Linked DNA regions of Homo sapiens. The protein of the gene in region 3 interacts with the protein of the main gene of each other region in a biochemical or structural test. Each region holds a gene or a part of one and is shown on either strand. Other genes may lie near its edges. The genes, in order: ETV1, CEP131 and MAPKAPK2.

What was found.
Region 1: of the proteins of MAPKAPK2 (region 3) and ETV1, one has a biochemical effect on the other in vitro, tested with the Homo sapiens proteins (one study listed by BioGRID).
Region 2: of the proteins of MAPKAPK2 (region 3) and CEP131, one has a biochemical effect on the other in vitro, tested with the Homo sapiens proteins (one study listed by BioGRID).

Annotation. Positions count from the first base shown.
Region 1 is NC_000007.14:13,982,941-13,986,688, reverse strand, and holds part of ETV1 (ETS translocation variant 1), read left to right. Parts: intron 1-3; coding exon 4-51; intron 52-276; exon of another isoform or gene 277-512; coding exon of another isoform or gene 513-573; intron 574-3,748. UniProt on the Homo sapiens protein: Transcriptional activator that binds to DNA sequences containing the consensus pentanucleotide 5'-CGGA[AT]-3'. Required for olfactory dopaminergic neuron differentiation; may directly activate expression of tyrosine hydroxylase (TH).
Region 2 is NC_000017.11:81,221,201-81,224,948, forward strand, and holds the start of CEP131 (centrosomal protein of 131 kDa), read right to left. Parts: upstream 1,766-3,748; 5' UTR 1,569-1,765; exon of another isoform or gene 1,446-1,568; intron 1-1,445. UniProt on the Homo sapiens protein: Component of centriolar satellites contributing to the building of a complex and dynamic network required to regulate cilia/flagellum formation.
Region 3 is NC_000001.11:206,687,773-206,691,520, reverse strand, and holds part of MAPKAPK2 (MAP kinase-activated protein kinase 2), read right to left. Parts: intron 1-3,748. UniProt on the Homo sapiens protein: Stress-activated serine/threonine-protein kinase involved in cytokine production, endocytosis, reorganization of the cytoskeleton, cell migration, cell cycle control, chromatin remodeling, DNA damage response and transcriptional regulation.

The DNA.
Region 1 (3,748 bases), on a different chromosome or scaffold from region 3:
TAGAACTCTTTCAAGATCTAAGTCAATTACAGGAAACATGGCTTGCAGAAGGTAAGGCAAAATTTGCTTTAAAAGGGGGGAAAGCAACTCTAGAAGGAGAAAGAAAAGAAGTCCTGAACTTGCTGTCTTAATATTCAGCCCAATTAATTGAGCTCTAAAAGAGCCACCTCATGTGTCATGCATACATTAGAGCCTCTGATGAGTTTGTCTTTGGGGACTCTGGGGCTGTACTACCCAGTGTCATCACAAATTACCAGGAGAAATTGCTTCCAGCTCACAATCACATCTGCTTTTGGCAAGAACTAATGCACCAAGACTTCAAGTTCTAAGCCTCTGTTCAGATTTTAATTGCAATTGATCAGGTTTATATTATTGTACCTCCAGAGACCTCCTAGAGCCAGAACCCGGCTGGCTTGCTGTTTCCTTTAGAGCAGCGCATATCATTATTTGGTGTTCTGGTGGAGGACTTTTCTGATGGCAGAAATTAGTTTCTCTGGGTTCATCAGGACGGGATGCTTCAAGATTTAAGTGCAAGTGTCTTCTTTCCACCTTGTTCACAACACAGAACGTTAGGTGTGTATCTAATGCTTAGGAAATCTATGGGTTTAAAATAAATGGGAGATATGAGGATTTTAAAAATGTTTTCCATGTGTTACTATTCATGTTATGTTTGCTGAAATTGACCTTTGCTATTTTGTCAGTTTTATTAGGATTTATTTAATAGAGCAAGGATACATTTAAAGGCATTACTTTCATTTTGAATTATTTTTTGTTAAAATTTTGTGGTGCAATCTGTTATATCTTTTATCGTATGCAACTTTATAGGAAAATGAGATTGCTTCATAAAGCTTTATACAACTTCAAAAATGCCTAATGTTGAGGGACTTCTGTTGGCATTCATAATTTGAAATTTTTCTTTTGGATTTGGCATACAAATGTGAAACATTAATTTTATGGTGTGGTTTGTGGGAAATACAAAGAGAAAAATTATAGATATTTAAGCATTGAGTGTATAACAGTATTATTTGTGTGTTCACATTATATGGGAAACATGCAAATTTTGGAACAGATTTTAAGATGGTTAAAAAGGAGAGAGTGGGTCTCTTTAAATGGAACCCAGGTGTTACTGTAGCTACTTTGAGGCAGACTGACGTGTTTTATCGGTGGTCTTGAATGCAGTTGATCAAGTTGCTGTTAGCATGTAAAATAAGTTTCTTTGTTTTGCTGATAGTCTAGTTCTCCAAAGAGCTTTTTCAATCTTTATCAATCTTTAAAGTTAAATAGCTTTCCTAATAGTCCTTTGAAAGGATGATTGTATTTATATGTTAATGAAGGTAAGACTTACTGAAAGTTTTGGCTATATTTAAGGATCATTTTGCTAGTCTGTGTAAATGAAACTTACTGCAATACATTACTTTTTATTGCAACATAAGTCATATTCAGATACAAGTTTTTCAAGGAAAATTTGCATGGAGATTCTTGTATTAACTTATGCCTATTAGTTTTGCAAAGTCAAAGGTTGTGAGAACATTACCTTTATGAGAGAATTTATTTGCTTCTCCAAAATAACTTAAAATATCTATTTTAATTGTTCTGGAAGGTTTGTTGGTTCTTAGATGTTTAAATCTCATTGATTCCAAGTCAGTGCACTTGCTGGCAGATTTTGAATGTGCATAGCAACTCTGTTCCTGGAATTTTAAAATGTGGAATCTGTGACAGACTCTTACCATTTTATAATCAGTTTCAGTACTTTTTTTTTAACTTTTGACTTACTTGTTTTGTGTCTTGTAGCTCAGATAAGTGATTGCAATAATTTATCCAAATTTATCTTTTAAAACTCTGCAGAGAATAGTCTTTCTCCGGGATTATTAACATACCTGTAAATCAAACCTGAAGATTTAGCACTACAAAAAATAATCCTAGAAAATGATCAGTGTATTTGGAAGAACATGGACCTTTACTTAGAAAAGAATTATAATTTCAATTAAGTTCAGGAATTAATCATGAGTGTTTTATATGAATTCCCAGGTGGACTACTATTTACAAACTATGGATAAGATTTCATTTTAGAATAATTTAAGCGTTTTCAAAACAGTTTACGTTAATTTATCTAATCACGATGTAAGTAAAAAGTTGTTAACGTGATGTTTAAAACCTAATAGTGAGAAAAGAGATCTTTTTAACTTCTTGTTTCTAGACTCCACTTTTTTTTTGTTTTGAGAAATTAAATATATTATTTTGCACTGATATTTTAACTTGACTTATCCCACCTCTTGAACGGTATTAGCTAAGAAGAGATCCCCAAATTACCCTAGTTTATTTGTAGTGAGATGTGTCCATTTATGTCTTTCTGGACATCCAGAAATTAAAACATTGCCAAATTGGCAGACCATGAACCGTTTACATATTTCTTTTCATAATGCTCCATAGCCAAGAAAGTGACCATGGAATTTTAAGACATCTTGACCCTTTTAAAAAAGATCATTGGCAGTTAATCAAGTTTCTCGCATGAGTTAGAATTCCACTGGGAAGTTAAACAGGTCTAAAAACCTTATTAGACATAAGAGTCAAGTTAGTTGTCATATGTCATATGATAATTGTGTTTTTGAAAAATTATAAAAGTCCTCAAATATTTGTGAAATGATATCTTAGCATGTTTAGTTTTTTTTTTTCTGTAAGACTATTCATAAATTTTACCCCAAATGCAACATATGGATTAGTCATGGGTAATTATTATGGATTATAAAATTTCTTTTATTTCTAAGGGGAAGTTGGAATAGATAAGGCAGGACTGTTTGAGGGTTGGGATGGGACCAGTATTTTCAGTTCAGTAAAGTCCTCTGTAAAAATATACTTGCATTCTACCAAGAAAGTTAATTCCCATACAGAGATTTAAATATGTTGGTGGAGAATATAACTTTACATTAATATCATTTCCCAAGAAATAACACTGCAATTTAAAGGTTTTTTTTTTAACATCTAAACACAGTTTAAAACAATTATCTTATTCTGAAGAAAACTGCAAAGTTAATGTTTTCAGTAACCACAGTAGTTAAAAAAAAAAAAAGTCAGGGAATATGCCAATTTTAAAATGTTGCCATAGTCACTTTATGTTATAATTTTACTATGTGCAATTCTTTATTGATTCTTTGTCTTTTAAATTAGACTGCTACTGACAGAAAGGCAATTGCAATTATTTGATCCCATGAAATAATGAGTTTAAATATCAATTCTATCAACATCATGGTGATGTCTTATTCTTAACAACCTGAAAGTCATAGTTAAAATGGAACCTCTTGTGTATCCAGAACAAAAATAGAAAGATGTAAAAAATTAAGACAGGATTGTATTCTTCCAAATTTGCTTCTTAAAGCTCACCTACTAACACAACTTAAAGGGAAATAATAATTTTCAGTATATATCTGATGTAAATGTGTAGCTGCTCTCTTGACTGTTATTTTGTTTCCGGTCTAGATGTTCTTTCAGGTTCACTTTCATCAACAATATTCTCTGTCTTCAGGGTAAAATGTTTTCCAGTGGTTTTGTATTGAGTCAAGTTTAGTGCTGCCTCCACACTTCGAGTAGGAGTTTTATCTGCAAGAACAACCTTTCTACAGCAAAGCTTATTACATCATACGAATAAGGGTTTTTTCCTTTTGGTTTTATGTGACCTTCAAACAACAGTCAGGTCAACTTAAAAGCAGAGATGTCATTACTTTCCCCTCAATTCGCTTTAATGGCTGATGGT
Region 2 (3,748 bases), on a different chromosome or scaffold from region 3:
CTGCACCGGGCAAACACTCCCTGGGTAATGTGTTATTCCAGCAGGGGACGGGGGTTCTGACGATCGATCGAGGGGATTAGCTTGGGGATGCTGGCTTCCTTACTTTGGAACTTCTCAGAGCAAACCCTGCCGGCCCCCAGCCCGTCCCCACATGGCACCTCTTTCTGAACGAGTCTTTCTGATCTTTCTGAACGGGTCTCAGCTCGTGCATGTGCCCCTGCCAAAAACCCTGCAACAGCTTCCTAGGCACAGAGAATAAAGTCTACACATCCAACTCCTGCAAGATCTGGCCCTGTACTCTCTGTGACCTCGCCAGCTCCCCTGCTGTGCCCCTTTGTTGTGGCTTTAGCCAACACAGCCTCCCTGGTTCTCCTCAAACTCAGCCAGCTTGGCCCCGGCCAGTCCCCTGCCTCTAGGTCTCAGGACACTCCCTCCCTGCACTCAGAGGCCTTCCTTGAGCACCCATCACTCTTCACTCCCCATCCGGCTCGGACTCCCTTCCTGTGGCCGCACACAGTTGGTTTATGAATTGTGTGGCTCCTGAGCAACCCCAGCACCTGCAGGGAAAGGCACTCAGCTGAACCCGTAGATGAACGGGAGAAGCTGGCGCCAGGGACCAACCTCGAGAATTACCTCCCTGCCACGGTGGCCTCCAGTAGGCCAGCAGGCACCCAGCCTATCGCCCAAGGTCACCCTGGGCTTCCTTCAGCCCGGCACCCCACAGCAGGTCCCCCAAGGTCCCTTCCACGGAGCGATGGATACCCCTACTCCCTAGAGGCTGACCCTGCCACTGACCAGGTCCCAGTCCTCAGTTATGCACTTCCGGCTGTGCGGAAGAAACTTAACACCCTCCTCCTGCAGGGCACTGTCCACCCCTGGCTGGACCCATGCAAGCCCTTGGAGCCCAGGACTCTGCTCTCCCAGCCACACTTGCAAGCGGCTCTGGGATGGCGAACGGGGCCTCTCCATGGAAACCTCCAAGCCAGAAGAAGGGAGGCCTGGGAGGCCACTACATCTTGGATAAAACTGTGTCCCTCCCAGGACCTGAAGGGGCGGGGACTGATGACCAGCGCCAGGACCTGGTTCCCAGGGTGGGCTGACCCTGACCCTGACCCTGACCCTGGACAGAGAGGCCAGAGCCCACGCGCAGAGCAGAGCCCTCCACTTGTCCTCAGGGCAGCTCCCATCTCCCCATTTTCCCCAGGGCTTAAGGCAGCCGGGCCAGAGATGCCGGGACTGGACTCCATGTTGTCCTGGGGACCGGAGGGGAGTGGAGGGAGGTGGAGAGGGTGGAGGGGATGGAGGTGGGGACCCACACCCTCAGGCACGAGCCTGTCTTCACCTGCGCGGGCCCCGGACCTCCCTCACCTGTGCGCACCCTGGATCCCCCTCACTTCCCCCGGATCCCGCCTTCAATTGCGCGGGCACCAGATCCCCCCACTCACCTGTGCGTGCCCCGGATCCCCATCACTTCATCACTGGACCAGGGCCTCCCACCTGCGCGGGCTCCGGACCCCTCCAACCTCCGTGCGCCCTGCAACCCCCTCCCTTGCCCGGGCCCCCCTCACCTGCGCGGGCCGGGGGCGCAGCCGCGAAGCCTGCCTGGCGCGCGGGGCCTGCAGATTCGGCCGGCGGGGAGGGGATGCGGAACCAGTCGCGCCCAAACCTCGGGTCGGCGACCTGGCGCCCCGCCACCCCCAACACTGCCCCGAGGCCCGGTGACAATGAAGCGGCCGGACGGCCGGGGTGAGCAGCGGCGGCAGCTAGCAACCAGCCTGGCACCACCTCCCCAGCCCGTCACGCCGGCCCGCCTTTCCTGCGCGCGCCGACTCCGGATTGGCCCTTCACGCTCCCGCTCAGGCCGTCCCGGGAGCTCATTGGGCCGCTCGGCTGTCCTTCGGGAAGTTCAAGCGTGGGAGGAGCGGCGGATGGCTGAGGGACGCGACTACAGAGAGCGGCCGATTGGACGCGGCTGGAAAGGGGCGGGTCATATAGGGGGCGGGGGACCGAGGGCGGCGGGAGGAGCTGGCCGGGCAGGGGCGGGGCCCCAGCGGTTGTGGGCGGGGCGTGAGGTGGGGGTGTGATGGGCGAGTAGGGCGAGGCAGATGTGGGCGGGGCAAGGCAGGTGTGGGCGGGGCACGCAGGGCCTGGGGAGGAGACACCAGGGAGGGCGCGAGGAGCACGCGGCCTCGGCTCGGCTCCCCGACACCCCCAGGCCGCCGCACTCCCGCGGCCCGGGGCTCCCCCAGTGTCCTAGGCCGCTCTGTCCCCACCCACGTGCGCGACTCCCCTCGTTACTCAGTACGACTGCGAGGGCGTGTGGGCGCCTTGCTAACCTCCCTGACCTCCTTCCCTTCGCGCTGCTTTGTTGTTTTTTTTCCTTCTCCAAAGTTTTAACGCTGCGCCCCGTGCGTAGCCGCTCTGTGACTCCCCCTCTCTCCGGGAGCCCTGGGGATTCCGCCCAGGTCCTCTCCAGGGAAGCCATCCTTCCCCTAAAAGTCACAGCACACTGGTCTCCCCTGCCCCCGCTTTTTAAAAAGTCCAGTGCTCTGTAAAATAAAAAGTTTGGTTTCAGTAAAATCCACATTTTTTGGTGTGCAGTGGAGTTGTGTAACTTTAGTTACAGAACATTCTCCCTCCGGATCCCGTACCTGCTGACTGCTGGTGGCGGCTGCTCAGTTCTCTCTGTTCTCCATCCCTAGAGGCAGCCTTTTCCAGAATGTCACACAAAAGGGATGTCGCGCAGCGCGCCTGTGGGTCTGGCTTCTACCACTTCGCATTTTGAGATTCATGCTGGTTCCTCTTTATTGCTGAGTGGTATCCTGTAACCGGTGTGAACCACCGGTTCAGATGGTTTTATTTATTGATGGTTTTATTCATCAAATGAAGGACGCAGAGATTGTTCCTGGTGCTTGGCAATTATGAATGACGCTGCCATAAACATTCACTCATCGGCTTCTGTGTGGACACAACTTTTCATTTCTCTTGTGTAAATACCCAGGAGTGGGGTTGCTGGATCAAATGATTGTTTATAAGAAACTGCCGGCCGGGCGCAGTGGGTCCCACCTGTAATTCCAGAACTTTGGGACACTGAGGTGGGCGGATCACCTGAGGTCAGGAGTTCGAGATCACCCTGGCCAACATGGCAAAACCCCGTCTCTAGTAAAAATACAAAAAAATTACCCGTGCCTGGTGGCGTCTGCCTATAATCCCAGCTACTCAGGAGGCTGAGTCAGGAGAATCGCTTGACCCCAGGAGGCAGAGATTGCGGTGAGCGGAGATCACCACTGCACTCCAGCCTGAGCGACAGAGCAAGACTCCATCTCAAAAAAAAGAAAAAGAAAAAAAAAAGGAAACCGCCAAGCTATTTTCTTTTTCTTTTTTTTCCTTTTTTTTCCGAGATGGAGTCTCCCTCTGTCGCCCAGGCTGGAGTGCAATGGCATGATCTTGGCTCACTGCAAACTCCACTTCCTGGGCTCAAGCAATTCTCCTGCCTCAGCCTCCCGAGTAGCTGGTATTACAGGCACATGTCACCATGCCAGGCTAATTTTTGTATTTTTAGTAGAGACAGGGTTTTGTCATATTGGCCAGGCTGGTCTTGAACTGCTGACTTCAGGTGATCCACCCACCTCGGTCTCCCAAAGTGCTGGGATTACAGGCGTGGGCCACCACATCGGCCTACTAAGCTATTTTCCAAAGAAGTTGTACAGCTCTACGCTCCCACCAGTGCCACAGGTGTTGCAGTTGC
Region 3 (3,748 bases):
ATCTGTGTATGTGTGTATATATATATATATATATATATCTTAAAATACAAAATACCAGTATTTTCCTAAAAACTAGAAAAGGTACACAGCAATCTGATTTGGGTTCTATAACTGCCATACGTTATTACACTGTCCAGTGACATGGCCCCTTCTCTTCACCAATGCCCCCATTTACAAGGTAACCCATGTGGAAAGATCCTAGCTGATGCGTTAGTGGAGCTCAGTTTTGCTCCACCAGGTCTACAGTCTTCTAGCAACCAAAAACCAAAGGGGCCCAGACCAAGAGCAGGTCCCAGGGAACCAGGTCTCAAGATGTGGCTCGGATGCTGACACCATGTAAGACCTTGGACATGCCACTGAACATTTCTGCACTAGGCCAGCTTCTTCCTCAGTGATGTGCAAGGAGTCAAGAAAGATGACCAGGGAGTGTGGGTTCTAAGTTACTATGAAGTGTGGGTTGCTTTGCCACTGGGCCTCAAACCATTACCAAGAAAAGCTGCAGTCCCTGCAAAGAACAACTCTTCTCTGCCCATCCACCTCCCTCCAGGACACAGAACCATCTGGAAAGATACAGTGCAGGGAAGAGGGGGAAAAGAGACCTCACATGACACTTGGCAGGGCCTGAAGTAGAGGAAAGGTAGGAGAATAGAGTGAATCCTGCACCACAGACATCACGCCACCAGGAAGAACCCCAGCTCAGAGCATGGCAAGGCTGCTTGGGAACTGGGCAATGGCTCAGATGCAGACGACTGTGCCCTGCTCTTCCCCATCTTGGCTGACATTCCTCCTGGCACCCACTCAGCACACTCCTGGGCTCTGGCTAACAGGAGCTTTGGCCCCTCCCCTAGCCCAAGGATTAAGTTTGCCTCCAGCAGTTCTGAGGCTGGGCTCTTCCAGGCCCTCCTCCCAATCCCCTGTACCTGCTTCATAAGAAAAATCATCAATTATGGATGGCCCAACCTCTCAGGTCCCAAGTAGCAGAAACATCACAGGTCCCAATACCTTCCTCCTCCCACAAAGGGGTTCTTTTGTTTCCTAGACACCCACCAATATTTGGCCCTAAGGCCCAGGGACTGCTTGTCTCTCCCCTCCTGTCAGCCACTGATCCCGTATCTTAGCTGGAGATTGTCTCCAAGCTCAGTCAAAGCCCAGAATTCACAAGTAAAAAAGGACAGTGAGCTGACCCAGCTTCAATCTTGCCTCAGTGGATGCCAAGGGCCCTGCTGCAGGAGCCAGGGGTCAGGGCTGGGGTCAGGGCTACGGCCAGGAGGGACAGGATCTCTGAAACCACAAACCTGACCCTTCCCTCATAATTCTGTAAGCCCATCTTCAATGATTCCTAACCTTTTTTGACACCTTCATGCCCCTCAAACACTTTAAAGCCTGCTTTGACACAAGATGAGTTAGCTTCAATTTGGAGCCACCAACCCCTGACCACTCTGACCTCCTGTTCCTCCCCTCAGTTCTAGCCAGGCCAATGTCACCACACCTCTCACAGACTTGCTCACTCCTCAGAGGCACAGCCATGTCCCACTGACCCCAGCTGGAGCCTCCCTTAGCTCCTGGAGTCACCACAGATTCCCCTCTTTCAAAGCTCCTCTATTCCCAGCCACACGATTTAGCTCCCAGACCAACAAAGTCTAGGAGAACGTTCTGCAAGGATGAAAATGTTCTTCTGCATTGTTCAATTCGATAGCCATTAGCCACATGTTTACTGAACACTTGAAGTGTGGCTAGCAACTGATTTTTCAAATTTAATTTAGTTTAATCCATTCATGTTAATTAATTTTAATTTAATTAGCTATGTGAGGGTAGTGGCTACCAGATTGGACAGTGCAGCCCTAGCCTACATGTGTTAATTTCACCTTCTCTAAATAAGTTTCTTGACTCAAAATTTTACAGGCCATTTTTTACATGTGTATCCTCCATGCAACTAAGCTTATGATAGATATTCAGCAAACTGTTACCTACCTGTAACCATATTGCATATAAAAGAGGCTGGCTTGGTCAATGAAATTTTCCTAACCTTGTGACAACTCCAGCAAACTCCAGTTTGGGACACTGCCTCTCACCTAGCCACACTAACTGTCTTGCCCTCCACAGGTACACAGTATGAGGTGTGTTGGAAAGGAGATGGTGCCTGTACTGTGGGGATGTGGGAGCTCTGGCATTTCCCTCCAACAGCATCCAGAATAATCATGAGAGGCTCCAATCATCTCCCCTTCACCAGAACAAAGGAAGCCACATCGCAGTGGCACTTCCATGACCTAGGGAGAGAGGAATGCTGGAGAAAGGAAAGGAAAAGAAACTACAGGACCTTGTTTTCTCTAATCCACGCAATGGAAAGATACACAGAGATAAGTTACGACAACATTCTATATTTTATAAAGCAGTAACATGCTTCACCTAATCAGAGTTGCACAGCAGAGAACAACGATACAGTCTTTAATTAAATTTGTTGAGCTAACACCTAAGGGTCACCATGACACAGTGAAGCGGCAAGCAGCTGAGGAACCCTCCCGGGGAATACAACTAATTAATACACAAGTGGGTTGAGACTAGGTGTCCTTATCAAAGAAGTAATACAGGCCGGGCGCGGTAGCTCACACCTGTAATCCCAGCACTTAGGCAGGCTGAGGCAGGCAGATCACGAGGTCAGGAGATCAAGACCATCCTGAATAACACAGTGAAACCCCATCTCTACTAAAAATACAAAAAATTAGCCGGGCATGGTGACGGGCGCCTGTAGTCCCAGCTACTCAGGAGGCTGAGGCAGAATGGCGTGGACCTGGGAAGCAGAGCTTGCAGTGAGCCAAGATCGTGCTACTGCACTCTAACCTGGGCGACAGAGCAACACTCTGTCTCAAAAAAAATAAAAATAAAAATAATAGAATTCCCATGTTCTTGTACAAAAAATAGTAAGTAAGGTGCCTATCAAATACTCTCTTAAAAGGGGGAGGGAGTGGTTAAAAAAATGCATGAAGCTACTGTTGAAGTTCCCCTCCAACTTTGGGGACTGTTCTCAGGAGCAGCAAATACCCATCCAGCCCCCTTCGCTGACCTCCCCTCTTGTCAGTCAGGGCCTGAGGTGACAGAACAGCTCCTCAGGCTGGAAGCACCCTGGAGCAGCAGGTGGCCATGTGCCTGAGCCCGTGGCTCAGTTAGGAAGTAAGTGGGAAGAAGCCTGAGACTGGGAGTCAGGCAACCTGGGTTCCAATCCTGCCTCTGCCAAGTGAATGGCTATGGTACCTTGAACAAGTCACTCCCTCACTCTGGGCCTTGGTTTTCTCTTCTGCAAAATAAGGGGGCTGGACAAAATGACCTTTCAAGTCCCTTGCAACTCTGACTGGAAGCATGACTCAGAACTTAGCAAAAGCAGCCAGGAGAGATGGTGAGGTGAGGTCAAAGCACCCACCAAAAGCATTTAAATGGGAGCTCTCTGAGGTGGAGGGAGAGAAGCAGCAGGGTGAGCTGGGACTCTTTTTCAAATGCTGATTTCACTTAACAGGGCTAAGAGGTCACCGACTATAGGCAGAGAGGAGAGCATCTAAGCAGCTGCCAGCTCCCATCAACTCTCAGGGCTGCAACATAGCAGACTTCTGAACCCCAGCAGAGGCTGGGCTCCTGCCCTCCAGCTCTGCCCTAGCCCCCAGCATTGGCCTCGGCACACTGTAGAATAGAGGTCTCCTCCCCTTTTCTCAGGCACCTTCCCAAGGGGGTAATCCCTCTTGCCCCACTCCATCTTCCT